Linked DNA regions of Homo sapiens. The protein of the gene in region 4 interacts with the protein of the main gene of each other region in a biochemical or structural test. Each region holds a gene or a part of one and is shown on either strand. Other genes may lie near its edges. The genes, in order: ABL1, BCAR1, MAP4K1 and CRKL.

The links.
Region 1: the proteins of CRKL (region 4) and ABL1 form a complex in vitro, tested with the Homo sapiens proteins (4 studies listed by BioGRID and IntAct, with this or other methods).
Region 2: the proteins of CRKL (region 4) and BCAR1 interact in a test that uses a peptide from one of them, tested with the Homo sapiens proteins (2 studies listed by BioGRID, with this or other methods).
Region 3: the proteins of CRKL (region 4) and MAP4K1 form a complex in vitro, tested with the Homo sapiens proteins (2 studies listed by BioGRID).

The regions. Positions count from the first base shown.
Region 1 is NC_000009.12:130,852,235-130,859,262, forward strand, and holds part of ABL1 (tyrosine-protein kinase ABL1), read left to right. Parts: intron 1-1,829; coding exon 1,830-2,003; intron 2,004-2,566; coding exon 2,567-2,862; intron 2,863-7,028. UniProt on the Homo sapiens protein: Non-receptor tyrosine-protein kinase that plays a role in many key processes linked to cell growth and survival such as cytoskeleton remodeling in response to extracellular stimuli, cell motility and adhesion, receptor endocytosis, autophagy, DNA damage response and apoptosis.
Region 2 is NC_000016.10:75,241,606-75,248,633, reverse strand, and holds part of BCAR1 (breast cancer anti-estrogen resistance protein 1), read left to right. Parts: intron 1-482; exon of another isoform or gene 483-574; coding exon of another isoform or gene 575-580; intron 581-5,543; coding exon 5,544-6,164; intron 6,165-7,028. UniProt on the Homo sapiens protein: Docking protein which plays a central coordinating role for tyrosine kinase-based signaling related to cell adhesion. Implicated in induction of cell migration and cell branching. Involved in the BCAR3-mediated inhibition of TGFB signaling.
Region 3 is NC_000019.10:38,587,120-38,593,960, forward strand, and holds the end of MAP4K1 (mitogen-activated protein kinase kinase kinase kinase 1), read right to left. Parts: intron 6,219-6,841; coding exon 6,163-6,218; intron 2,157-6,162; coding exon of another isoform or gene 2,059-2,156; intron 699-2,058; coding exon 629-698; 3' UTR 522-628; downstream 1-521. Other genes in the region: RYR1 (ryanodine receptor 1), read left to right, coding at 206-301. UniProt on the Homo sapiens protein: Serine/threonine-protein kinase, which plays a role in the response to environmental stress. Appears to act upstream of the JUN N-terminal pathway.
Region 4 is NC_000022.11:20,948,379-20,954,247, forward strand, and holds the end of CRKL (crk-like protein), read left to right. Parts: intron 1-1,332; coding exon 1,333-1,467; 3' UTR 1,468-5,369; downstream 5,370-5,869. UniProt on the Homo sapiens protein: May mediate the transduction of intracellular signals.

The DNA.
Region 1 (7,028 bases), on a different chromosome or scaffold from region 4:
GCTAGAGTGCAGAGACGAGATCTCAGCTCACTGCAACCTCCGCCTCCCAGACTCAAGCGATTCTCCTACCTCAGCCTCCTGAGTAGCTGGGACTAGTAGCTGGAACTACAGGCGCCCGCCACCATGCCCGGCTAGTTTTTTCTATTTTAGTAGTGACGGGGTTTCACCGTGTTGCCCAGGTTGGTTTTGAACTCCTGAGCTCAGGCTCAGGCAATCTGCCTGCCTCAGCCTCCCAATGTTCTAGGGTTACAGGCATGAGCTACTGTGCCTGGCCCAGTTAGTGATTTTTAAATTGTAGTTCCTTAAATGAGTATTTTGGATTTCACTCCACAATGTTCTTCAACTGTAAGATCTACTTGAGGTTATTTGATTTGCTGGTTTGCAAGAACTCGTCTACACGTTGTCTTTATCACAAAGAAATTCTGGAGCGTTTGAGCCCTGTTCAAAAAAAAAAGGCAAGAAGAAACTTCAGGAACAAATAACCTATTTGACCCTGTAATGAATAATATTCACACATTTTCTAATTTAAGAGCTGTTGATTGATTTCCAACTTTTAGAATCTGTTTCAGACAAAACATGGAAGTTTAGTAACAGTTTTTTCTATTCTGTAATAATAATTGCCACAAGGTTAAAAAAAAAAATTTACAGAAGAACATATTTGAGGGTGGTCGTGGGGGCAAGAAAGCTGGAAGGACGGGTGGGGTGTGTTAATAGCCTTGTCTTGTGAAGTAAGTCCTCAGAGACGCTGTCCTAGTTGGAAGAACAGGCAGTGAAGGTGTGCGTCTGTTACGGAGAATAGGACTCCAGTGATCTAGCTGGTACTTAGAGAGGTGGGGGTGATCACCAAAAAAACAGCTCTGCCTCTGGGAGCGGAGAGGACTGGGATAGAAAGTATTTGTCTTTCATTTTAAGCCCTTCTGTACGATTTGACTTTTCTTTTTTTTTTTTTTTTTTTTTTTGAGATGGAGTCTCACTCTGTCACCCAGGCTGGAGTACAGTGGCACGATCTTGGCTCACTGCAACCTCCGCCTCCCAGGTTCAAGCAATTCTCCTGCCTCAGCCTCCCAAGTAGCTGGGACTACAGGCACCTGCCACCATGCCCGGCTGATTTTTGTATTTGTAGTAAAGACAGGATTTCACTGTGTTGGTCAGGTTGGTCTTGAACTCCTGACCTCATGATCCACCCCCGGCTTTTTTTTTTGACACGGAGTTTCTCGTTACCCAGGCTGGAGTGCAGTGGCGCAATCTCTGCTCACTGAGACCTCCACCTCCTGGGTTCAAGCGATTCTCCTGCCTCAGCCTCCTGAGTAGCTGGGACTACAGGTGTGCGTCACCATGCCCGGCTAATTTTTGTATGTCTAATGGAGACAGGGTTTCACCATGTTGGTCAAGTTGGTCTCAAACTCCTGAACTCAGGTGATCCACCCACCTTGGCCTCCCAAAGTGCTGGGATTACGGGCGTGAGCCACCATGCCCGGCTAAAGCAAGAAATTTTCATTGCATATTTTAAGCAAAGGCAAATGCATATGTGGATAGACTGTTTTAATTTGACTAAAGTCATATTGAATCCATGAATTTTAGAAGCTCAAACTATTGGGGAACAATAATTACCACCTTGGAGTGAAAATACTTAATTTCCACAAGATTTAGTAAAGGAAGAGTTTTTTAAAAACCACCTTAATGATAATAGTATGTACAGATGTTAAGAAATGAAATAGGAATGTGTAATGTTGGAAACACAAATATTTTTGCTTCTGAGAATAAAACTAATTTTTTCTCCCAATTTTCTCTTCCTTTTTCTTTTTTCTGTTCCCCCCTTTCTCTTCCAGAAGCCCTTCAGCGGCCAGTAGCATCTGACTTTGAGCCTCAGGGTCTGAGTGAAGCCGCTCGTTGGAACTCCAAGGAAAACCTTCTCGCTGGACCCAGTGAAAATGACCCCAACCTTTTCGTTGCACTGTATGATTTTGTGGCCAGTGGAGATAACACTCTAAGCATAACTAAAGGTAAAAGGGTTGTGGGCAGCTAGTGGTGGTTGCAGGAGATAGAAATCTGGGAATTGCGGTTTGACCTACCACCCTTTGCTCGTTAAAGGAGCAGCTTTGAAATCTGGACTGCAGGGATATCCAAAACAACAACTGCATGTTTCTAAGGGAGTCGACTCTCCTTAGAGGAGTTCTTGTACAATAGCCCTGGGCAAAAACAGAACTTGCCCTATTTTTTATACTGAAAAGGACAGCTGGACAAAATACTGAACGCAATTTTTCCCCTAAGAAAAAGCATTATTTCCCTAAAATGTCTTATATTAGGAACAGAGCACTTGAATAAACATAATTGATTTATAAAAACTGAGGCTATACACTTACCTATCTGTTCAGTACAAACAGGAAGCTTCAAATGTAAACGTGAATTCTCATACACTTATAAATGCATATCTTTATGTGGACTTGTTAAAATGAAATTGGTATTTAGGAATTTGGAGATTTTTAGTAGTTACACAAGAATCAATGAAAAAGAACGAAGCTGGTTTCCAAAGCTGATATGTCTGATTTGGTTCCTTTCTTCTCAGGTGAAAAGCTCCGGGTCTTAGGCTATAATCACAATGGGGAATGGTGTGAAGCCCAAACCAAAAATGGCCAAGGCTGGGTCCCAAGCAACTACATCACGCCAGTCAACAGTCTGGAGAAACACTCCTGGTACCATGGGCCTGTGTCCCGCAATGCCGCTGAGTATCTGCTGAGCAGCGGGATCAATGGCAGCTTCTTGGTGCGTGAGAGTGAGAGCAGTCCTGGCCAGAGGTCCATCTCGCTGAGATACGAAGGGAGGGTGTACCATTACAGGATCAACACTGCTTCTGATGGCAAGGTAGGGGACCCTTGGCAGGGGGCGCTGATGGGCCCAGGGCAGGGGAACCAGAGGTCCTGCTGTCGGATTGATAAATTATTGCAAGAAAGCTCAACCAAGAAGATGTTTAAAGAATCTTTCAGGTGGGAGTCATTCCATTAGCCTTATGAAGACCCTTTATTGAGGATCCGTTCTGTGATATTACAAGTTCCTGGGACTGGTATGATTCTCTTATTGTCTTGCTAGAGTTTTGTTGTTAGCAAGTTACTTAAAATAGGAGGAATATCTGTTGGGTTTTGGACACATTTTTTACAATAAGATTCTTCCTTTAAAAAAAATATTTTATAATGATAGAAATCATCCCCAACGAGAAAAATTCAAATAATAGATAACCTTTCTTAGAGCGAAAGACCACTTTACTATCCCCTCCCCCACAGACGCCTGGCACGTGGGCTTCTTCCTGCGGATGAACACATTCATGGAGAGGTGTGTGGACATACGTGCATACACGCATGCAGTTTTCAGTGAAAACCGGGATCAAACCCACAGCTTACCAAACCCAAAGTGTGGTGTTGTAAGGGAGGTGGCCTATATGATTTTGTGGTCTTCATATAAATAATCCTTAAGAGTCCATAAAGAGAAGGGAGGAGTTAACATTGACTGAGGTATTGCTATAATACCTGCATCTTTGCATTAAAGAAAGGGAGGCATAAAGAGATCTTGCCCGATGTCAACCTAGTGAGTCACTGATGGAATAGGCTTGGATCCCACAGTTTATTCTACTGCACCAGGCTGTAGTTGAGGTACAGTGTTGATAGGTGGTCCCGATGGTGTATGTTTGTTTGTTTGTTTGTTTTTGAGATGGAGTCTTGCCCTGTCACCCAGGCTGGAGTACAGTGGTGCGATCTTGGCTCACTGCAACCTCTGCTTCCCATGCTCAAGTGATCCTCCCACCTTAGCCTTCCGAGTAGTTGGGACCACAGGCGCACACCACCATGCCCAGCTGTTTTTTGTTTGTTTATTTGTTTTGAGATGGCATTTTCGCTCTCATTGCCCAAGCTGGAGTGCAATGGTGCGTTCTCGGCTTACTGCAACCTCCACCTCCCGGGTTCAAGCATTTCTCCTGCCTCAGCCTTCCAGGTAGCTGGGATTACAGGCATGCACCACCACACCCAGCTAATTTTGTATTTTTAGTAGAGACAGGGTTTCACCATGTTGGTCAGGCTGGTCTCAAACTCCTGACCTCAGGTGATCCACCTGCCTCAGCATCCCAAAGTGCTGGGATTACAGGCGTGAGCCACCACGCCTGGCCGTTTTTGTATTTCCAGTAGAGACAGGGTCTCGCCATGTCGCCCAGGCTAGTCTCAAACTATTGAGCTCAAGCAATCTGCCCTCCTCGGCCTCCCAAAATGCTGGGATTACAGGCACGAGCCACTGTGCCCAGCCTATATTTTTTAAATAGTATGTAATGCATGCATATGGTTAAAAAAAATCAAAAGAACAAAATGAATTACAGTAAAAAGTAATCGTCTCCTAATTCACTTTTCCTGCCCAGAGGCAAGCACTGGTACTAGTTCCTTCTAGAGTTACCTGGACACAGATGGATGGTATATAGATGTTTATGTGGATGTTTATATTCAAAAAGGCACGCAAATGATACATGCACGCGAATGCATCATGCTTCTCCCGTGTGATAATACACCTTCGAGATTGTTTTATGGCAACAGGTTTAGAGCTGCCTCATTCTTACCAGTGACTGTGTACCGTGGATGGACTGTCACTTATTTCAGTAGTCCCCTGCTGGTTGACTTTTAGGTTGTTTCCAATCTTTAGTTATTGTAAATAATGCTGATATGAGGTGGCTTTCAAACCTTTTCAAAAATCTGGTTCTGCTGTAAGAAAAACTCATTTTACACCACCACCCAGCCCTCACAATATAACAAAAGTTTCATGAAGTCTTACCTACCCTTACTGTATGTAACGCACTCTGATAGTTTGTATTTCATTCTGTTCTATTTCATTTTTTAAAAATTCTGGTTGTAATCCACTAAATTTATTTCATAGACTGACTAGTGGCCCATGGCCTGGTTTGAAAATGCGTTGCACGTGCTTCTTTATGTGGGTGTAAGTGTGTGCAGATAAGTTGCCAGAACTGACTGAAGGTTATGTGCATCACCAGGTCACCCTCTATAGAAATTGTACAAATTTGTTCTCCCACAAACAATCCATGAAAGGGCTTGTTTCCCCTTAACCCACACCAACAGTTTATTATTAGACATGTAAAAACACCTTTGTCACTCTGACTGGTAAAGAATGGCATCTCATTATGTTGAATATCCATGTGGCATATTTTGGGTCATCTTTATGCCATTTAGTAAATTCATCTTTTTCCTACATGTTAGAAATATACCAAGTGTATATGTGTATCTAGGCCTGTTGACCTCTCTGTTCTCTTCCATTGGTCTGTCTATCCGTATGCCAGTACCAAACTTGTAATTGCTATGGCTTCATACCATGTTGTGGTATCTGATAGGCTAGTCCCCACTTACCTTTTTAACTTTTTTTTTTTTTGGCTGTCTTCACACATTCACTTGTACCATATGAACATACATATACTTCCTTTTTAATGTTCTTATTTTTCTTCACATCCCAAAGTCTTCTGGCTGAAATCCTATTGCCCATATCTGATGCTTTCCACCACTGCAGAATTCTTTAGTACCAACACTGCAGTGTGCGTGACGGACAAAAGAGCCTGTTATCCCTGTGTGACTAGACGTGGGCCTGTCAGCTTGCTTTTTGGGTTATTGTTCTTATCCCAGAGGTGGAGCTGCGTTCTTCCATTCTGAGGGACGTACTTCAGGACATTGGGCCCTTTGAAAGAGCCTTCAGACCACAAGGGTACCTTTCTAGTGAATCAGAACACCAGGGTGCACCGCCCATGGGGGGTGATTTTCTGGAGCAGACAGCTTGCTTCCCATGTGTGCTATTTATCCAAGGCAAGTCATGCTGCACCGAGATAGTCACTTGAGGTTTGCACCGAACAGGATAATGGTTTCTTTTCCCTAGAGCTGTTTAATCAGCAACCTTGGAACAGATGCAGGCAGGCATGATCTAGTGTGACAGCTCATTAGCTAGGGGTTGATCTAAAATACTGTTCAAATGGGCAAGGAAAGGCCTGCGTATGGGATATGTGATTTGCAGAATTTGAGATTCATCCAAAGAGGGAGAATCTGCCTAAGATGCCTCTGTCTAAAAGCTAGTATGTGCCAGGTGGGTTTGTTTCATTCCAGGTAGAGCACAGGGAGCTTATGTGACCAGGCAGTGTCCACCATTGGGCAACACATCACACTTCCCTTGGCGTCTTGCCTCCTCCCTCCCCGTCTGGCACAGACTCTCCCATCAGCCGTTTGGGCACCTGGGGACTTCTGAGCCCACAGCGTCATCCAGCAGACCGTCTGCGGAGGTTCCTTCCTGTGAGGGCCGCACTCGAGGGGGTGTATTGGGTGGGATCGTATCACTGGAATGAGTGAACATCGTTAGAGGGAGCTCCCACAGCTATGCGTGTGACCGTGTGGCTCGCCGCTGAAAAATGCTGCTCACATAGCAGAACTTCGATGCAATCCTTTTTGGATTTCTAAGGGGAAATTTTAAGACCGATAGGAGGAATAGGCTGGGGTTGAATAAGTTTGGTTCTTATTTTTAAATTAGCTCATCTTTAGAAAACAACTGAATTTAGAAGATTCTTCTGTAAGGCCCCAAAGGATTTCTTTCTGCCTCCCCGCTCTTGGCTCTTATTTGTGTCTCTCCTCGTGTTCTGAGCTTTTCAGCAGCCCTTGTGGGTCATCAGCCGAGGACCATCAGCTCGGGGCCCAGAGCTGGGGACTGGGAGTTATGAGCTGGACTCTTGAAGGGGCCAATACTAAACCGAGCCGTTGCCATTTCCTAGGAGCCTTGACAGGCTCAAACATCTCTGGGTACCCGGGGATTTGACTGTCATTGTTCTGATCCTTTCCCAAAGTTGTAACCCTCTGTTGACATAGCGGAATTGAAGATTGATTTTTCTTCACCACCTTCTGCCTAAAGTTCTTAGTTCTGAATGTGTCCACACCTCATTGACTTCTATGAGATGCCCCTGTCACGTTCCTCGATTCCTTCTAGTCCTTAATAGAGTCTTTCCTTTTCTTGAA
Region 2 (7,028 bases), on a different chromosome or scaffold from region 4:
GACCCTGGCCACCCTGTTGTTGTGGGAGTATTAGGGGAAGTTGCCACTAAGGCTGGCAGGTCCTGGAGTTCCACCCAGGATGGGGACATGGGGGAGGGAAGAGGAGGTGCCCCTCAGAGCCTGAGGCCAGGACCAAGTGGGGTGATCAGGACCCCTCCAGGTGGGTCCCGGGTGCGGATGGCCAGTTGGGCGCATGCTTATTGGGCCTGCATCCGTTGGCCACGGAGGCTCTTTGGGACAAGCAAATAGAATGCCCCAGAAATAAACTTGGCCCAAGTTTGTGATGGTTCTGGGTATGAAAGAAGTCAGTGTTTCCCAAGTGCCTGCTATGTGCGAGGCTCTGTGCTGGGGCGGGTGCATGTGTGCGTTGGGGGCGTGGACAGGAGGGGTGGGAAAGGCCTGTGACATTTCCTCTGGTGGTTTCCACGAACCCAGGCGTCACCCCTCGGTGGAGATAAAGTGGAGCCACCCAGCTCCACCGTGTCTCAGCCTGGGGTCGGCCTCTGCTGCTTCTGGACTCAGTGACCCTGGGCTGTCAGGGAGCTTCTGAGCCTTGGTTTTCCTGTCTAGTAAGATGGAGGTAATCGTGTCTTATGGGGTTGTTTTGAGGGTTAAATGAGCTGGTGGCTGTGTGGGAAAGAGCTCTGCCTCCCGCAGGGAGGAACTGTGCTGTTCTTATTATTGTGAACTTAGTGACAAGTGTGGCACTATTACCCATTTCCTTGTCTGCCCCCAACCCTGGGGTCTTGGGCAGAGAACAGGAGTTCTTGCCATTTTCTCCCAGCTCCCACCTTGTGCTGGCTTGCGGGTGCTGAGGTCATATTTGCTGGGTGAAAGGGTGCAGGCCAGATATGAGCCAGGCCTGGCAGAGAGGGTTTTGGTCAGCAGTGATACCTGCAGTGTTCTCTGCAGTTGGTTTGGGCTGGCCCTGCTCCTGAGAACTCCTGGGTTGTCCCTTCAGGCAACCAGGGAAGGCTCCTTGGAGCAGCAGCATCTCCCCTTACCACTCGCCGACACCAGCTTCCGCCTGACCCAGAGAAGGAGTTTGGGGACAGCCACAGCACGTCCAGGGCTCCCAAGGCAGCTGGCAGAGCCAATGAGGAGACCCCAACACCCATCCGACGGCTGCAGCTCTCCCTGACGTGTGTCACCCGCAGCCCTGGTCCCAGCCGCTGTGCTTCTCAGGGCCTGCCTGCCCAGCCCGGGTGGATATGGTGCCCAGGCGGGCCCCGGGGACACAATGAGGGCCATTCTCAGAGCCAGGCAGAGCGTGTGGGGCAGTCCTGTCAGTCCTATGTGCAACAGCTGGGATATTGTTTAGGGAGTGCTGGCATCAGGCTGGGGCTCTCCTCCTCTGGCCCTGCCCTTTGGGATGAGCAAGCCCCCAAAGGCCTTCCTGGGTTCCTCTGGTGCACGTGCCCTGGAGTTACCCTTCTGAAGGAGGTAGACTTGTCCTCCTGTCCTGGGTGCCTGGGGTGCAGGGGTGTGAATTGGGCTATGTCAAGATATGCTGGGCAGTACTGTGAGGTGGGGGCAGAGGGGAGAAGGTGTCCCAGGAGGAGCCTTCCTGGAGGGGATGATAGTCCAGCATGTTCTGAAGTGGGAGTAGGGTGCGGCAGGAGTAGGGTACCAGAGAATGAGTGAGTCAGGCAGCAGCCTCCACTGCGCCTTGGACACAGGTGGCTGACAGTGTCCACCTGGACTGGCTTTGCACCCCTTCTGAGGTCACAGTTGTGTCCCTTGAAAACTTGGGCAGGAGCACCTGACTGGCCCAGCTTGGGTCATGCCCTAGGCCCAGCAGTGCGGGAGGCCAGGAAAGTAGGCTTGGGGAGGCTGGCCTCTCCTCCAGTTTGAAGCATGGCAGGGGTTCCGGGGGAGGCTGCTGGGGGGCCTGCGAGCATGTCCAGAGCAGGAATGCTTGGGGTGGTGTGTGCTTTGCTCGTCTGGGCTTATCTGGCCGTGGGGAAGCTGGTTGTGCGGATGACGTTCACTGAGCTGTGCACGCATCATCCATGGAGTCTGCGGTGTGAGTCCTTTTGCCGCTCCAGGGTCACAGCCTGCCTCCCTGCTCCAGCCCCCTGGCTGAGGCCCTTCCTCTGCCCCATGCTCTTCTCAGACAGGAATCCTGTGGAATGTCATCTCTTTGGGGAGGCCGTCTCTGACCCTGTATGCAAAGGCCTTCTCCCACATTATTTTTGGCACCCCACTTTCTTCCCCGTGAAAGCAAATTGTTTGGTGTCTTTCTGTCCCACTACAGTATAGGCCCGGTTCAGACAGAGGCCTTGTCCACTAGGCCTGCGCTATCTCTGCGGAGCCCAGCCAAAGCAGGGGCCAGGCGAATCTTTTGTTAAAAGAACAATGCGCGCTGGGCACAGTGGCTCACGCCTGTAATCCCAGCACTTTGGGAGTCCGAAGCTGGAGGATCACTTGAGCCCAAGAGTTTGAGACCACCCTGGGCAACATAAGGAGAACCCATCTCTACACAAAATTAGCTGGGCGTGGTGGTGTATGCCTGTAGTCCTAGCTACTTGGGAGGCTAAGGTGGGAGGTGGCTGAGGTGGGAGGATCACTTGAGCCTGGGAGGTTGTTGCAGTGAGAGCCATGATCGCGCTACTGGGCAATAGAGCAGAACCCAGTCTCAAAAAAAAAAAAAAAAAAAAAAAAAAAAAGAACAATCCTATGAAATGAGGGCTGTCATCCAGCAGAGAGGATCTAGATGCTCAGAGAGGCTAAGGGATTTGCCCAAAGTCCCACAGCCGGGCCCAGGTCTGAGTCTGCCTAGTGAGGAAGAAGGAGTGCATGTCCTTAGGGAACAGAACAGGAGGCAGAGAGGCCCGGAGAGGCGGGGGCCCTGGCCAGCTGGAGTGGTCGGTTGTGTACCAGCAGCGTCCAGAGCTCAGGCTGGGCGGGGGCACACCAGCTGACGCAGGCGGGGAAGCTCCTGGTGCCAGGCGCCTGGTGCCACGTGCCCAGCCTGTGAGATGCTTCCCAGCCTGGCTTCAGCGGCCCCAGACTGGGCTGTGGCCGATCAGTGAGCTCATGCCTGGCAGGGCTGGGCTGTGAGGCCAGAGGCCCCAGCCGCTCACCTGGGCCGGGCTTTCCCTCCCTGCAGGGCCCTTCCCTCCACAGAGCCCCCGGCCTCCCTGCCTGTGCTCCCTCAGCCTCTCTGAGTGCCTGGCCCTGCCTGATGGGGCCTCTGCCAGCCTTTCCTGGGCCACCCTCCTAGGAGGTGAGGGGCCTTCGCGGGGCGGTCCCCTCTGTCTAAACCCCCACCTTCTCTGACTTGGCTGGAGGGGAATTTTCCTGTGACTCACTCTGCTGGCACTTCCTGTGGTCACCAGGGCAGGGGCTGGGGGACCCGGAGGGGCAGCTCTGTGGTGTGTAGGGTCACTGGGGAAGGGTGGCCCGCCCCCGATGGGCTGTGATTCCCAGAGGCAGGCTGCAGACCATATTTGGGAAATGCTTGTCTTGCTGGCCGCCTGGGATGGGGGCCCTGAGCCCGGTGGGCTGCAGGACAGCCCCCGCCCTCCCGCTCCTCTGTGGGGCTCTGGCCCCTAGACCTGCCGCACTGCCTGTCCCGTCCTGCCTCAGAGCCTGGGACATAGTCCACCGTTTTCTTTTTTTTTCTTTTTGTGTAGTTTTTCAGCCCCAAAGCAAGAAACACTCATTCCTGAAAAACAGGAAGAGAAACTATCTCCATTGTCTCAGACATCTCTGGTGTCTTCCTGACCCTCTCTTGTCTTTACGTTTCACAGGACATTTTCTTGAGATGTGCTTTTCACTTGAGTGCCTTTTTCATTTTGTTGTAATCATGGTGTGGACAGTGTTGCAGCCATCCAGGGCCTCTGCCCTTGTGCTCACCTTGGCTCCAATATGACTCCACCTGGGCCTGCCCTCTCCTAGCTGCCCCCTGGCCCCTCCCTTGGGCCTTGCTCCTCCTGGCTCTCCACACTCCAGCCTCTGGCCCTTTTAGGGACTGGAGGCTCCTAGCTGCTCTGGAGAAATGGGCTCCCTGCTGATGATGTCCACCCAGGGCAAGTGAACCATGGGGTCTGAATGTCTGATCCTGGGACCTGGGGCAACTACTGCCTACCCAGGCCGCTGCCTGGTATGCCATCGCCCTCTGATGCCGGCCAGGGAGATGGCGCTCAGAGGGGCACTGTCCAGCCCCTGCTCATATAGGGGAGGAGGGTGGGCCCTAGGGACTTGAAAGAGGCCTCACCCCCACTCCTCTGCCCCAAGGCACAGGCTCCTGCTTCCTGTTTCTGCCCAAGGGGGCGTGGCCCTTTCTTCCTTGTTTCACTCCTTGCAGATGGAGTCCAGAAAGTGGGACTTGGGCCCAAGTGGGGATGGTCACACAGCTACTGGCTGGCCAGAACCCAGGTCCCATTTCCGAGTCAGAGTCTCGACCAGGCTGCACATCTAAGACGCCAGGAGACTCTGAGGAGGGACCTTGCAGGGCAGCCCAGAGCTGAGGCCAGGCTGGTGGGGTGGCTGGAGCCCAGTGCCGGTCACTGTCCAGCCAGCCTGGCACTGTTCTCACACCCGGCTTCCCTGTGTGTGAAGTCTGGGGCCCCTGTGGAACCCATGCAGCCCTCTGCTGCCCTAGGAGGGGCCGCAGCCCTGGCCTTGTCTCACCCCGTGCCTCCCTCACACCTGCCTTTTGCTGCAACCGCCCACACCCTCCAGCCAGGGATCCTCTGTCTCTCTGGGCCCATCCTGCGCCTGGCACCTCGATGGGGCAGCAGCGGCAGGGGCGAGGATGCATGAGTGTGTGGTGGGAAACTGCGAGGCCTCCCTGCCTGGGCTCTAGTGTCCCAGCGAGGCTCCGCCCCTGCCCTCGCCACGGCACTCATGCCTCTGATCCCACAGCCTCCTCCAAGTCCCTCTCGGACTGCTTGGCTCCTGGGCCACATGGAGCACGTACCCGGCTCTGCAAGGGTTTGCTGAGGGCGACGGGGCCAGGACAGGGAGGGTGTGCCTCCTGTTTCTTTCCCAGCCTTGGGGAAGGTGTTTGAAGTTTCTAAATTAATTACTGACTTTTTGGATTTGGGGTAGATAGACTTTGTTAAGGAAGCTCTGTCTTATTGTTGTTCATTTTTTTATCCTAAGAAGCTGTTCTTTTTGTCAGATTATTTTCGTGCACCTCGAGAGAGAACCATTTGCTATTTGTTTTAACTTGGCAGCTTTGTCGTGATTACTGCCGCTCTCCTTGTGTTGGTCCAGGTAGCAGAGTGGCCTTGGGTGGGGCTTTTAGGGATATCTTGAGGGTCATCCCTGGAGTTTTGGTGGTGACAGTGGTCAAGAGGATTTTGAGGTGCTATACAGGTGCAGTTGAAAGAAAGGCCAGGATCAGCTGGGCCTTTCTGCTGGGGAACAGGTGGGGACAGTGGAGGCAAAGGCACAATGATCTCGCCAAACTCCACTGAGTTCTTTTCCTAGTATCAAAGCTGGGCACCTCCCCAGAGCAGGGCAGGAGCTGGGGAGCCCCTGACGCCCCATGCACATCCTTCTGTTCTCACACCTGTGTCCTCTCTCCCCAGAACGTGCTGGCCAAAGCGCTCTATGACAATGTGGCCGAGTCCCCGGATGAGCTCTCCTTCCGCAAGGGTGACATCATGACGGTGCTGGAGCAGGACACGCAGGGCCTGGACGGCTGGTGGCTCTGCTCGCTGCATGGGCGCCAGGGCATCGTGCCTGGGAACCGCCTCAAGATCTTGGTGGGCATGTATGATAAGAAGCCAGCAGGGCCTGGCCCCGGCCCTCCCGCCACCCCGGCCCAGCCTCAGCCTGGCCTCCATGCCCCAGCGCCTCCGGCCTCCCAGTACACGCCCATGCTCCCCAACACCTACCAGCCCCAGCCAGACAGCGTCTACCTGGTGCCCACTCCCAGCAAGGCTCAGCAAGGCCTCTACCAAGTCCCGGGTCCCAGCCCTCAGTTCCAGTCTCCCCCAGCCAAGCAGACATCCACCTTCTCGAAGCAGACACCCCATCACCCGTTTCCCAGCCCGGCCACAGACCTGTACCAGGTGCCCCCAGGGCCTGGAGGCCCTGCCCAGGATATTTACCAGGTGCCACCTTCTGCCGGGATGGGGCATGACATCTACCAGGTCCCCCCGTCCATGGACACACGCAGCTGGGAGGGCACGAAGCCCCCGGCAAAGGTAAGGCTGTCCTGGCACAGTTGTGCAGCCACACAGGTATAGCCCAGGCCCTGGTTTGTGGGCACAGAAGGGTCCAGCCACCCTCAATCACCGGCATTCCAGGAGTGGCTGTGTGTTTGGTCTGGGGTCAAAGTGGGAAGTGAGTGTTTGGGGGGTGTTCATTTGTCCGGGGAAGATGGATGTGAATGGACCCAGAGGGGAGATGCTCCGCTGGCCTCAGCCAAGCCGACCCGAGTGGTGGTGTCACCAACCACAGGGAGCAGCCTGTTGAGGCGTTCCAGTGGGCAGGCGGGGCTTGGCACATGGGGTCGGCAGTTGCTGGGCCCCCGCAAGGGAGAGGCCAGCCACTTCATGCTCAGGCTCCCCTGTGCCATCTGGGTTTACGTGTCAGCCTCTAGATGGGGTTCCGGCACATCTTCTGGCCGCCCCTGCCTCCACAGGCCAACCCCTCTCCACTTATGGAACATGCTAGGGGCCAGCGGGTGCGTATGGTGATCTGGATGTGACTCCTGGGAGGACGCTGCCCCTGAGATTGCTAGAGGAGGACTGCCCTGAGAGCCTCCTGGGCTCTTGCTGATGGGATGCTGGGCCTGGGGACAAGACCTCTGGCCTCCAGACCCTGAGCCCGCTTCCCAAGTCCACAGGGCCCCTGCCTCCCAAGCTCACCTGCCTGTAGGAAGGAGTCAGCACTAGACACTCAGCCCAGGGCTGAGGTGGAGACCTCATTGGTGCCAGCTGGGCAGCGAGTCAGCTGGGAGTTACCCCCACCCCCGCCCATGGGTGGCCTGGTACCCAGGAGGCATGGCCGGAGGTCGTTGGCGGGTGGGGGACTCCATGGACATGGGCCACCAAGCCTGGCCACCA
Region 3 (6,841 bases), on a different chromosome or scaffold from region 4:
GGTGGTGGTGTGCACCTGTAGTCCCAGCTACTCTGGAGACTGAGGTGGAGAATCGCTTGAGCCAGGAGGCTGTAGTGAGCTGTGATTGTCGCCACTGCACTCCAGCCTGGGCAACAGAGCAACACCCTGTCTAAAAATATATATATATATATGTCTCAAGGGTTTGAAGATGTGACCAATGAACTCTTTCTATCCCCAATCCTAGGAGTCTTATGTCTGGAAGATGTACCAAGAGAGATGTTGGGATTTCTTCCCAGCTGGTGATTGTTTCCGTAAGCAGTATGAGGACCAGCTTAGCTGACACACCCCCAGCTGGCCCTCCACCCCCACCTCAAGTGCCTTATTCTCACAGCAAGCCCCTTAGTCCCCAAGCCCCTCCCCCTAAGGCAGCTGGGGGAGAGGTGACCTAGTACTGGAAAATAAATCTGTGCTACGCCCCCCAGCATCACTGTGTTGGCCTGCTGAAATTTTGGAGGAGTGGACATCCAGGAATTGTTTCCCCCAAGAAAAACAAGATGACAGCAGAGGCTAAAGTCATGTTTATTGGGAGATGAGGACATGCCATGACCACTAGTGTGTCTATGGGGGAGGGGGTGCAAGGACTAGTTCCTGACACCCCCCTAGGGACTCATTCCTGGATGTAGAGGTTGCTGGGAGCAGTAGGATCATCCACTGGGCGTGTCTCCACCACTACAGGCCTGTGGAAGGAAGAGATAAGTCAGTTCATTTATTCATTCATATGTTCATTGATTCATTAATTCACAAAGTAGTTAATAGAGACTGTGCCAGCCCCATGCTGAACTATAGCAGTGAATGGGCAGACACGGTCCCTGCCCTTAGGAAGCTTGCATTCTAGAGAAGGAGATCAACATGAATCAGTGAATTACATGAGTGCAAAAAAGCATGGCATGTCTGGCAGGGAAACCTAACCCAGGAGGTCAGCCCAGACTCCCCAGAGAATGGATGGTGCAGCCTGAAGGGGGGTTAGGAGGGAACTTGGTGAAAGGGCAAGGAAGAGTGTTCTGGCTGGGGAGAACAGCCTGTGCAAAGGATTTGAGGTGGGAGAAAGGCTGGGACTTGGCTGGAGATGTCATGGCCTTGTGGGCTGTGGCCAGGATTGAGTCTTTATCTTGAGGCCATGGGAGGATTTTAAGCAGGGAGACAGTGACACGATCAGATTTGGATTTAAAGTGACCCTTCTGGCATGTCAAAAGGACACAGGGGCTACTTAAAGTGGTTCCCACTGGCTAAATTTAAGACCATTTGTGCCTCAAAATAAATAATGACAAGGCCGGGCATGGTGGCTCATGCTTGTAATCCCAGCACTTTGGGAGGCCAAGGGGGGCAGATCACTTGAGGTCAGGAGTTCAAGACCAGCCTGGCCAATATGGTGAATCCCATCTCTACTAAAACTACAAAAATTATCCAGGTCCATCCTGGCTAACACGGTGAAACCCCATCTCTACTAAAAATACAAAAAAAAATTAGCCAGGTGTGGTGGCAGGCACTATAGTCCCAGCTACTCGGGAGGCTGAGGCAGGAGAATGGCGTGAACCTGGGAGCCAGAGCTTGCAGTGAGCCGAGATAGCGCCAGTGCACTCCAGCCTGGGCGACAGAGCGAGCCTCTGTCTCAAAAAAAAAAAAAAAAATTTATCCAGGCATGGTGGTGCACGCCTGTAATCCCAGCTATTCGGGAGGCTGAGGCAGGAGGATCGATTGAACCTGGGAGGCAGAGGTTGCAGTGAGCTGAGATCACACCACTGCACTCCAGCCTGGGTGACAGAGCGAGACTCCATCTCATAAATAAATAAATAAATAATGACAGTAATAGACTATAACCCACAGAATAAAAATCCATGAGACCATGCTGGTATAAAGAAAGAAGAATGGAGAAGACACAGCTCTTCTTTAGAGTAGAATGCCAACTAACACACGCAGAAGGAAACATAGAATCAGAAAATCACCATTTATTGTTAGTAGCCACCTAACAATAATAGATTCAGGGAAAAATCAATTGATTCTAAAACTAGTGGGCAGGCCAGGTGCGTTGGCTCAAACCTGTAATCCCAGCTACTCGGGAGGCTGAGGCAGGAGAATTGCTTGAACCTGGGAGGAGGAGGTTGCAGTGAGGCGAGATCGTGCCACTGCACTCCAGCCTGGGGGACAGAGTGAGACTCTGACTCAAAACAACAACAAAAGACAAACAAAAAACAATAAAACTAGTGGGTGAAAATCTGATGAGAAACAACGTATTTACAGACTATTTACCTCGTCTCAGTGAATCTCCCCAAAAGATACTTCTTTTTTTTTTTTTGAGACAGAGTTCACTCTTGTTGCCCAGGCTGGAGTGCAATGGCGCGATCTCGGCTCACTGCAACCTCCGCCTCCCGGGTTCAAGCGCTTCTCCTGCCTCAGCCTCCCGAGTAGCTGGGATTACAGGCATGCAACACCATGCCCGGCTAATTTTGTATTTTTAGTAGAGACAGGGTTTCTCCACATTGGTCAGGCTGGTCTCAAACTCCCGACCTCAGGTGATCCACCTGCCTCGGCCTCCCAAAGTGCTGGGATTACAGGCGTGAGCCACCGCGCCCGACCGGTGGGATACTTCTTATTACAAAGAAAAACAGAGGCTGGGTGCGGTGACCCCTGCCTATAAGCCCAGCACTTTGGGAAGCCTACACAGGTGAATCTCTTGAGTCCAGGAGTTCCAGACCAGGCTAAGTAACATGGCGAAACCCTGTCTGTACAAAAAATACGAAAATAAGCCAGGTGTAGTGGTACGCGCCTGTCATCCCAGCTACCCGGGAGGTTGAGGTGGGAGGACTGATTGAACCCAGGAGGTCGAGGCTGCAGTGAGCCATGATCGCGTCACTGCACTCCAGCCAGGGTGACAGAGAGAGAATCTATCTTTAAAAAAAAAGAAAAAGGGAGAAAAAAGCAACTTCACAGTGGAGAGAACTGGCTGATTCTACCTTAACCAAATGACCGAAGTTAATATCACCAGTAATGGGACAAACTAGCATTGTGTACTTCCTGAAATGATGCACTGAGAAAGACATCTTTCTGCAGTATTCCTGCCCAAAATTCAGAACGTGGAAACCTCAAACACAGTTAAGGGACATTTTAGAAAACAAATTTCCTTTAATTTTTAAAAAGGTCAAAGCTCCTTTAAGACAAAAGAAGTTTTAATTATTTTTTCCGGCTTAATTATAAAGAAACATGGCTCCTAAGTGCCACCTATGATCTTGGACCAGAAAAAAAAAAAAAAAAAAAAAATATATATATATATATATATATATATATATATATATATATATAATCACGGGCGTCACTAGGACAACGGGTGAAATTTTTTGTTGTTGTTGTTGTTGTTTTCTGAGACAGAGTCTCGCTCTGTCACCCAGGCTGGAGTGCAGTGGCGTAATCTCGGCTCACTGCAACCTCCACCTCTCCGATTCAAGTGATTCTCCTGCCTCAGCCTCCCAGCTGGGATTACAGGCACGTGCCACCACACCCAGCTAATTTTTGTATTTTTACTAGAGGTGGGGTTTCTCCATGTTGGCCAGGCCCATCTCCAACTCCTGACCTCAGGTAATCTGCCCACTTCAGCCTCCCAAAGTGCTGGGATGACAGGCGTGAGCCACCACACCTGGCCAACTGGTGAAATTGAGTAGGGGTATGAATTAGAAGGTTGTGATGTTTCAGTGTTGTTTTCTTGATTTTGACAGCTGTGCTGTGGTTTGTAACATTATGTCCTTGCTTTGATTCAGGAAACATACACTGAAGTATTTTAGGGGTAAATGGGCATCACGTCTGCAATTCATTCCCAAATATTCATTAAAAAATCACACACACACACACACACACACACACACACACACATATACTTGTATGTGTGGTGTGTGCGCATAAGAAAGAGAAGAGGCCGGGCATGGTGGCACATGCCTGTAATCCCAGCTACTCGGGAGGCTGAGGCAGGAGGAGTGCTTGAACCCAGGAGTGGGAGGTTGTGGTGAGCTGAGATTATGCCATTGCACTCCAGCCTGGGCAACAAGAGCGAAACTCTGTCTCAAGAAAAGAAAAAAAAAAGAATAATAAGGCAAATGCGGTTAAAAAGATTAACATCTGGCCAGGTACAGTGGCTCACGCCTGTAATCCCAGCACTTTGGGAGGCAGAGGTGGGTGGATCACCTGAGGTCAAGAGTTCGAGACCAGCCTAACCACCATGATGAAAGCCCACATCTACTAAAAAAACAAAAAAATTAGCTGGGCGTGGTGGTGTGCAACTGTAGTCCCAGCTACTCAGGAGGTTGAGACAGGAGACTTGCCTGAACCCGGGAGGCAGAGGTTGCAGTGAGTGGAGATCCACTGCACTCCAGCCTGGGCCACACAGCAAGACTCCATCTCAAAAAAAAAAAAAAAAAAAGATCTGGTTAATCTGGATAAAAGGGATTTTTGCAACTTCTCTGGGAGTGTGAGTTTTAAATTATGTCAAAATAGTTAAAATAGTTATTTTTAATAGTTAAAAATTTTTAATAAGATAAAAATCTAAAATAAAAATGCAGCCAGGGCTGGGCACGGTGGCTCATGCCTGTAGTCCCAGCACTTTGGGAGGCCGAGGCGGGCAGATCACCTGAGATCAGGGGTTCAAGAGCAGCCTGGACAACATGGCGAAAGCCTGTCTCTACTAAAAATACAAAAATTAGCCGGGCACAGTGGCACATGCCTGTAATCCCAGTTACTCGGGAGGCTGAGGCAGGAGAATCGCGTGAACCCAGTGGGTGGAGGTTGTGGTGAGCTGAAATCACGCCACCGCATTCCAGGCTGGGCAACAGAGCAAGAATCCGTCTCAAAAAAAAAAAAAAAATGCAGCCAGGTGTGGTGGCTCATGCCAGTAATCCTAACATTTTGGGAGGCCAAGGTAGGAAGATTGCTTGAGGCCAGCAGTTCAAGGACAGCCAGGGCAACATGGCAAGACCCCGTCTCTACAAAAAAATTTTAAAAATTAGCCAGTTGTGGTGGTGTATGCCTGTGGACCTAGCTACTTGGGAGGCTGAGGTGGGAGGATCAGTTGAGCTCAGAAGGTCAAGACTGCAGTGAGCTGTGTGTGTAACACTGCACTTCAGCCTGCGCAACAGAATGAGACCTTGTCTCAAAAATGAAATAAAATTAAGGCCAGGTGCAGTGGCTCACTCCTGTAATCCCAGAACTTTGGGAGGCCAAGGCAGCTGGATCACCTGAGGTCAGTAGTTTGAGACCAGCCTGGCTAACAAGGCGAAACCCCGTCTCTACTAAAAATACAAAAAATAGCCAAATGTGGTGGTACACACCTGTAAACCCAGCTACTTGGGAGGCTGAAGCATGAGAATCACTTGAACCTGGGAGGCAGAGGTTGCAGTGAGCTGAGATTGTGCCACTGCACTCCAGCCTGGGCAACACAGCGAGACTCTGTGTCAAAAATAAATTTTAAAAAAATTTTATAAATAAAAGAATTAAAATTAAAAAATAAAAGGATTGGCCAGGTGCAGTGGCTCATGCCTATAATCCCAGCACTTTGGGAGGCCGAGGCAGGTGGATCACCGAGGTCAGGAGTTCGAGACCAGCCTGGCCAACATGGTGAAATGCCATCTCTACTAAAAAATATAGTATTAGCCGGGTGTGGTGGCACATGCCTGTAATCCCAGCTACTTGGGAGGCTGAGGCAAGAGAATCGCTTGAACCTGGGAGGCAGAGGTTGCAGTGAACCAAGATCACACCATTGCACTCCAGCCTGGGCAACAAAAGCAAAACTCCATCTCAATAAATAAATAAATAAATAAATAAATAAAAGAATTGCTGGGCATGGTGGCACATGCCGGTAGTTCCAGATACTCAGGAAGCTGAGGTGGGTGGATCACTTGAGCCTGGGAGGTCAAGGCTGCAGTGAGCCGTGGTCGTGCCATTGCACTCCAGCCTTTGAGTACAGTGAGAAACAAAACAAAAAGAGAGAACGCCCCCGTGGCTGCAGTGCAGAGAACAGACTCTAGGGAGCAGGGATGGAAGCAGGGTGACCAGGTGAGACACTGTCCAGGCTAGAGATACCTTGCTGGGGACACCTCAGAATGCTCTCTTCACATCAGAAGCCCCCTCCCAGGTCCTTCTGCACCCCACCCCACAACATACCTGGGGGAGCCAAGCAGACGGAAAGTGAGGGTAGGGTCTCTCAGCTCCTGTAGCAGCTAGGGAAAAAAAGTGTGTGTCTCAGTGCCTGGAAGATACCTCCACTGTCACTACGAACATGGCTCCCTTAAAGACAGCAAGGAGCTGGGCACGGTGGCTCACGCCTGTAATCCCAGCACTTTGGGAGGCCGAAGTGGGTGGATCACCTGAGGTCAGGAGTTCGAGACCAGCCTGGCCAACATGGCAAAACCTCGTCTCTACTAAAAATACAAAAATTAGCTAGGCATGGTGGTGCGCGCCTATAGTCCCAGCTACTCAGGATCTGAGGCAGAAGAATCACTTGAACCCGGGAGGCAGAAATTGCATTGAGCTGAGATTGCGCCACTGGGCGTGCCACTGGAGCCGAGATCTCCAGCTGAGATAATTTTTGTATTTCTACTGAAAATACAAAAATTAGCCAGCTGTGGTGGCGCATGCCTGTAGTCCCAGCTACTTGTGAGGGTGAGGCACGAGAATCGCTTGAACCTGGGTGGCAGAGGTTGCAATGAGCCAAGATTGTGCCACTAACACTCCAGTCTGGGGAACAGAGCGAGACTCCATTTCAAAAAGAGGGAAGGAACTGAGTGAGCAAAAATAAATAAATAAAAATACTAAAGTGTAAGGGCAAAGTCTGACACAGTAT
Region 4 (5,869 bases):
TTCTCAGTGCTAATTCCAGCTCTTCCCTTCGTGCATCCAAAGGGTATGATCATTAGAGGGGGCGTGGGGTTGGGGGATGGGTTCTATTCAGGAATCTCTACTCAAGTAACAATCATTTAATTACTGCAAGAACCTTTCAAAGTTGGAAGGAAACTGAGACTTGGAGAACTTAAGCAGTTTGCTACAGTCATGTAGTTTCTAAAAGTGGCAGAACCAGGACATTTGTTTGGTGTCCTGCATGCTCCAAAGTTCATGGCACGGACCATTGGACTGTGCCATAAAAACCTTATGCCTGTTTTTATTTTGAGATGTAGTCTTGCTGCGTTGCGCCGGCTGGTCTCAAACTCCTGGGCTCAAGCAGTCCTCCCACCTCAGTCTGCCAAGGACCTGGAACTAGAGGCATGTACCACGATGCCTGGTTCTATATGTGTTTAAGCAGACAAAAGCTTATTTCTTATTGTCTTAGATCTTAGGTGGGTCTTATATTCAAGTAGCGTTTTTATGGACCTAAGTACACAATACAGAACCTTAGATTAGTGCTCTGCTGAACAGAGTAACACCCTGTCTACAATGACTACCACCTGAAGGTCTTTTTTTAAAATACACCTTTTTGTGTAATTTGACTTTAACCATTCTCAGAATCATGTGTTCATTTCTATCCTGTTGGGGTTAGTGGCCAAAATAGAAGGTTGGTGTGGGGTGGGGAGCTGCTTTGTGCTCAAAAGCTGTTTCTGTGTGTGTGTGTGTTTTGATTTTTGTTTTTTTGAGACAGGGTCTCACTCGGTTGCCCAGTCTGGGGTGCCGTGGCACTATCACGGCTCACTGCAGCCTCAGCCTCATGGGCTCAAGCCATCCTCTCACTTCAGCCTCCTGAGTAGTTGGGACTGCAGTCATGTACCACCACACCCGGCTAATTTTTCTATTTTTTAGAAGAGATGAGGTTTCACCATGTTGCCCAGGCTGGTCTCGAACTCCTGACCTCAAGTAATCCCAGGAGTTCAAGGTTACAATGAGCTGTAATCGGGCCACTGCATTCCAGCCTGGGCGACAGACCCCGTCTATAAAAAATTAAAAAATAATGTGCATGGTGGTGCACGCCTGTAGTCACAGCTATTCAAGAGGTGGAGGTGGAAGGATCACTTGAGCCCAGGCGTTAGAGGTTACATTGAGCAGGGATCTCACCACTACACTCCAGCATGGCTAACAGAGTGAGACCCTGTGTCTAAATAATAATGTATGGGCCCTTTGGATAAGGTAGTGTTTGTGATTTAATGTAAACTGTCTTTTTCTTGTTGCAGAGAAATGCTAACTTTGTCTTCTTCATCCATACAGGTTGGTGACATCGTGAAAGTCACAAGGATGAATATAAATGGCCAGTGGGAAGGCGAAGTGAACGGGCGCAAAGGGCTTTTCCCCTTTACGCACGTCAAAATCTTTGACCCTCAAAACCCAGATGAAAACGAGTGATTGCTGTTGCCCTGTTTCCTGCTGCTTTGTTGTTCTGCCTGTCCTAGTCTCCTTTGAAGTGGGAAAGCATTTTCTCTCATAGGCAAGTCACACTGCATTGCCGAAGTCCAGCTTTCTGCAGACTGGCAGTCGCACACACATTTGGAATGCACACAGCGGCTGCCTCCTGATGTTTGTATCATAGTCGTATTGTCAAAGAGTAGCCGATTTTAGAGTTCTTTTGGATCATAAACTGGAAATACTGATGGAAGCACACAAGTGGAGAGAAGTTGACATGGAAAGGGTCTTCCTTCTCATTGCTGCCCGTTTGTACATGGGACTGATTCTGTTGTGTTCACCAGAGAAAGCTTGAGGCCATGGCGAGATACTGCATGTTTGCTGTTCCACAAAGCAGTGGCTTAGCTGCCATCTTGCTTTTCTTTGGACAACAGGAAGTGAACCTTAAGGAAGAGAGAATTCTGTTCTAAAACTCCAAAATCTGGCTTTTTTTTTTCTTTTGTTTTGGTTTGGTTTTGGAAAACTAATTAATTAGACTTGTGTGGGGGTTTTTTTTTGTTTTGTTTTGTTTGTTTTGTTTTGTTTTTTTGAGACGGTGTCTCGCTGCATCACCCAGGCTGGAGTGCAGTGGCGCAATCTCGCCTTCCTGCAGTCTCCGCCTCCTGAGTTCAAGCGATTCTCCTGCCTCAGCCTCCCAAGTAGCTGGGACTGCAGGCGCGCACACCACGCCCAGCTAATTTTTGTATTTTTAGTAGAGACGGGGTTTCATCATGTTGACCAGGCTGGTCTCAAACTCCTGACTTCAGGTGATCCACCCGCCTTCAGCCTCCCAACGTGCTGGGATTACAGCCGTGAGCCGCCGCGCCTGGCCTAGACTTGTGTGTTCTAAACAGGTTAAGTAGCAGGTTGGGTTTTTATGATAGTGCAAGGAATGACTCATGCCTCTGAGCTTCTAAACTGAAGCTGCTGTAACTAAAGGAATCTGAAAAGAACAACCCTGAAGCAGAGGCCTTTATTGTCTTGGTTGCCAGTAGTACCTTGTTTTGCCATGTAGCAGACAACACACAAAATAATGCAGTTGTGGTGTGCCATGCTATGTGCACAGCCCCTTGGATTACTTTGTTTTAAAAAGCATCAGAGTTGGGGGTACTTTAGGGAAACCTTTGCTTACCTTGTTTTGCCAGTGATAAGAGCAGTGGGTTGGAGGGCACTTGGCCAGTTTTCTGTTCAGCTTTTCAGTGAATGTACCCCTTTAAGGTTCAGACTTAAACTTCCTTAAAAAGTGGCGTTGTTCATAGAATCGTTGGACTCATTAATGAATCGTTCAACTCCACTCACTGAAGCCCAGACCTCCGTGCCCAGGCCCAATCTCGTCAGGCTGCCAGAGAAAGTTGGTGCTGCTCATACTGGTCTCACAGTCTAAGTAAGTGTCTGTGATGCTCCCAAGCAAAGGAAATGCAAGCTCTGGAAATTCGTTAATGTATTTGATGTCTTAGTGTTTTAGTGACTAGGGAGACCATTAACTAGTTTATCATTAACCACTTATCAGTGTATTGATGTTAAAGCATTTCCCTGTTAGCTAAAAGAGGCCTGTTCATACAAGCCAACTGGTATATACGTGTGGTTCATCCATCATCTGCTGCACATAGCAGACTAGAATTCTGGGAACCCTGTGCAATTCAGTCTGCTCTCCCTTGTGGACCCTGGTAAAGAAAAGCCTCAGCTCATAGTGAACACAGCAGACCTAGAAATGTAGCAGCAGCCTACTGAGTAGCTTTCATTTACTGATCATCTGCTGTGACTGTGGCCCTGTCTGGAGGTTCCTAGGTTTTGAGATTTAGAGCAATGCATTCTGGAGACAGAACCAGCAGAACAGCCATTTTTCAATTTTTCTTTAAATCAGTATTCCATCAGGCAGATAACTGCTGTATTCATGAATCTTGAGAGTGTTCCTGAGACAGAATTAATGGTCATTTGGGAAAACTATCGCCATGGCTTCCCATCTGTGGTTTTCCTCTAAAAGCCTTGGAGATTAGCCCTTCCTTGCCAGTGAGAACGGTGACCGCCTCCTGCTCTGCACGGTCTGCGGCAGTTGCCGCTTCTGGTTAGGTGTGTCAGGTTGGCTTATTTTGGGTTCAGGCCTGGCGTAGCACCCACAAGTGGCAGACATATCACAAGAGTCCCCAGACTCTGCCTAGAAACAGTGTTTGCCCTTTGGCCAGTGACGTGGTTCATCCCGGCCCATGTTGAGCCATGAGTGGAGTTTCCAACAGAGGGAGGAATGTGTGCCTTGTTCAAGGAGGGCACGACCCTTAGGCCTTTTTCAACCAGATTTAGCTGAAGGGCTTGACACCTTTGAATTACAGCAGTTGACTCAGAGTGCAAGAAGTCTGGCCATTTTGGAAAGCAAGGTTTCCTTTCAGCCCTGTCTACTGACCAATACCCCGACTCACCTTGTGTGGCGCACTTCAGAATCAGATATACCTAGAGTATACCTGTGGTTTGGTTTTATAATTAATCAGCTCGTTACTTCAGCCCATGAAAATGGCATCCAGGGCTGCCAGGAGATTCAGAGCTCAAAACAAGGCGAGCTTGAGTTCTGCACTCCAGATATGTGCCAAAACTAGTAAAACTTAACGGACTTACAACCTTGTCAGTTTTTTTAATGAGGCAGGGATACTCTGTTTTTCACACTAAACATATGAATGCAGCACTGCTGCCTCAGCTCAGCTTCGTGCCTGGGTTCCCCACTGGTCTGGGAAGACTGTTGTGCTCCATAGAGCAGTGCACATCTGACCCAGAGGGTGGGTGTTCATAACTGCTACTTGCTCTGCTCTACCATGTTTAAAGAAATATTTGGATGTTAAATTAACTCACTATGGTTTTTCACCTGGGAAGGAAACAAATTACGTACTAGAGGGCATTGACTGGTTAAAAACTTGTGTATCCCGGGAAGGACCTGCGGTACAGGAGTCAGCCATGTCTGTGCTGTGTGGAACCACCTGATGACATGGTTAACGAGGAAGACGATGTGTTGACCGGCTGCCGTTTGAGGACTTTGGTCACCCAGACTAGACACCTTCTGTGCTCATGTTTGGAAAGCTGAAAGGGAAGGACAGCTGTGCCCTCCTGGGAGCTCATGTGTCCCTGGCGCTGTGCTAGCTTTCCTTTACAGCTGTTTACAGACAAGGCAGGCCTGAGGCAGATGGCCACTGCTCTTGTGATGTTTGCTCAGAGGAATATGAACATTTTATTTTTGAAAAGGGATGATGTGGTTTTTTGCCAGGTGTTTATAATTAATCCTTTAATATTATGGTTATTAACCTCTTAAACATGAATGAATTCTTGATTGTTTTAACACAGTACCTAAGACTAATGCTTTCTGTGGACACCACTGAGCTCTGCCTCAACTCCACCCTCTGCGACCGGAGGACTATGCCCCTAGTAACTGCTGTCGGTGTGGACGCTGTGCTGGTTCTGTTTTCTAAAGGAGCAGAAGGACAGGTCTCTGAGACAGGATCGTTGTCCCTACAGGAGGAACAGTGGCCTTGCTTCTTAGACGGTCTTCACTGTGTGTTTTAAAACAACAACAACAACAACAACAACAACATAAAACTCTTTTGACCTGTAACTTAAAGATCATAAACTTCAGGCAATAATATTTTCTGTGTAAGCTTTTAAAATTATTTTTGGGGATCATAGCTTGTTTTATTTTGTGCTATAAAATTAACAGTATTAAATGACTTATATTCTTAGAATACATCGAGTGTCTTTTCTTAACAGATTAGTGCCTTTTTATTTTTGTATTCCGTTTTACGTTACTGGTCCCAGCATCAAAACCCTTGTTTCCATGGCCTGTTTGTATATTGTCTCAATAAAACTTGCATCAGCCGGTGGTGGCGGCAGCTTCGGTGTTTCAGTGTCTCCTCAGTCCGCCCCCACTAGCCTCCTGGCAGTTCATCAGTGGTGAAATCTCTGATGCTTCTCAGAGACCCTTAGTGCTGCTGCTGACCAAGAGCTAGAATGAAGTCTTGGCATCCGCCCATTCCAACACTCGGGCACCCAGAGGAGAGCACCTGGGGTCTCCCTCCAAAAGAGAAATCTGCCTCCCAGAGTGTCTGTCTTGTAGGTATTGTATGGGAGCCTAGTGCTTGGCCTTCTGAGCATGAGGCAATAGTTCCCACAGGTTGCACCACCACAGAGAACTTGGATCTTTTTCCTTCTAGGCACCCATATCTGAGGCTTCTAGTAAATATTTCTTCAGCATGAGCTAACCAGGGTTGAATGGTATCAAGCAGAAGTCATGGGAAGTGAGCAGCCTCATTGCAGGTCAGGGCATGATATCTGTGCGGCTTTCTTGAATCCTTTTCTGTTCTTGGCTGTAGGTGGTTCTCCTGATGAACTT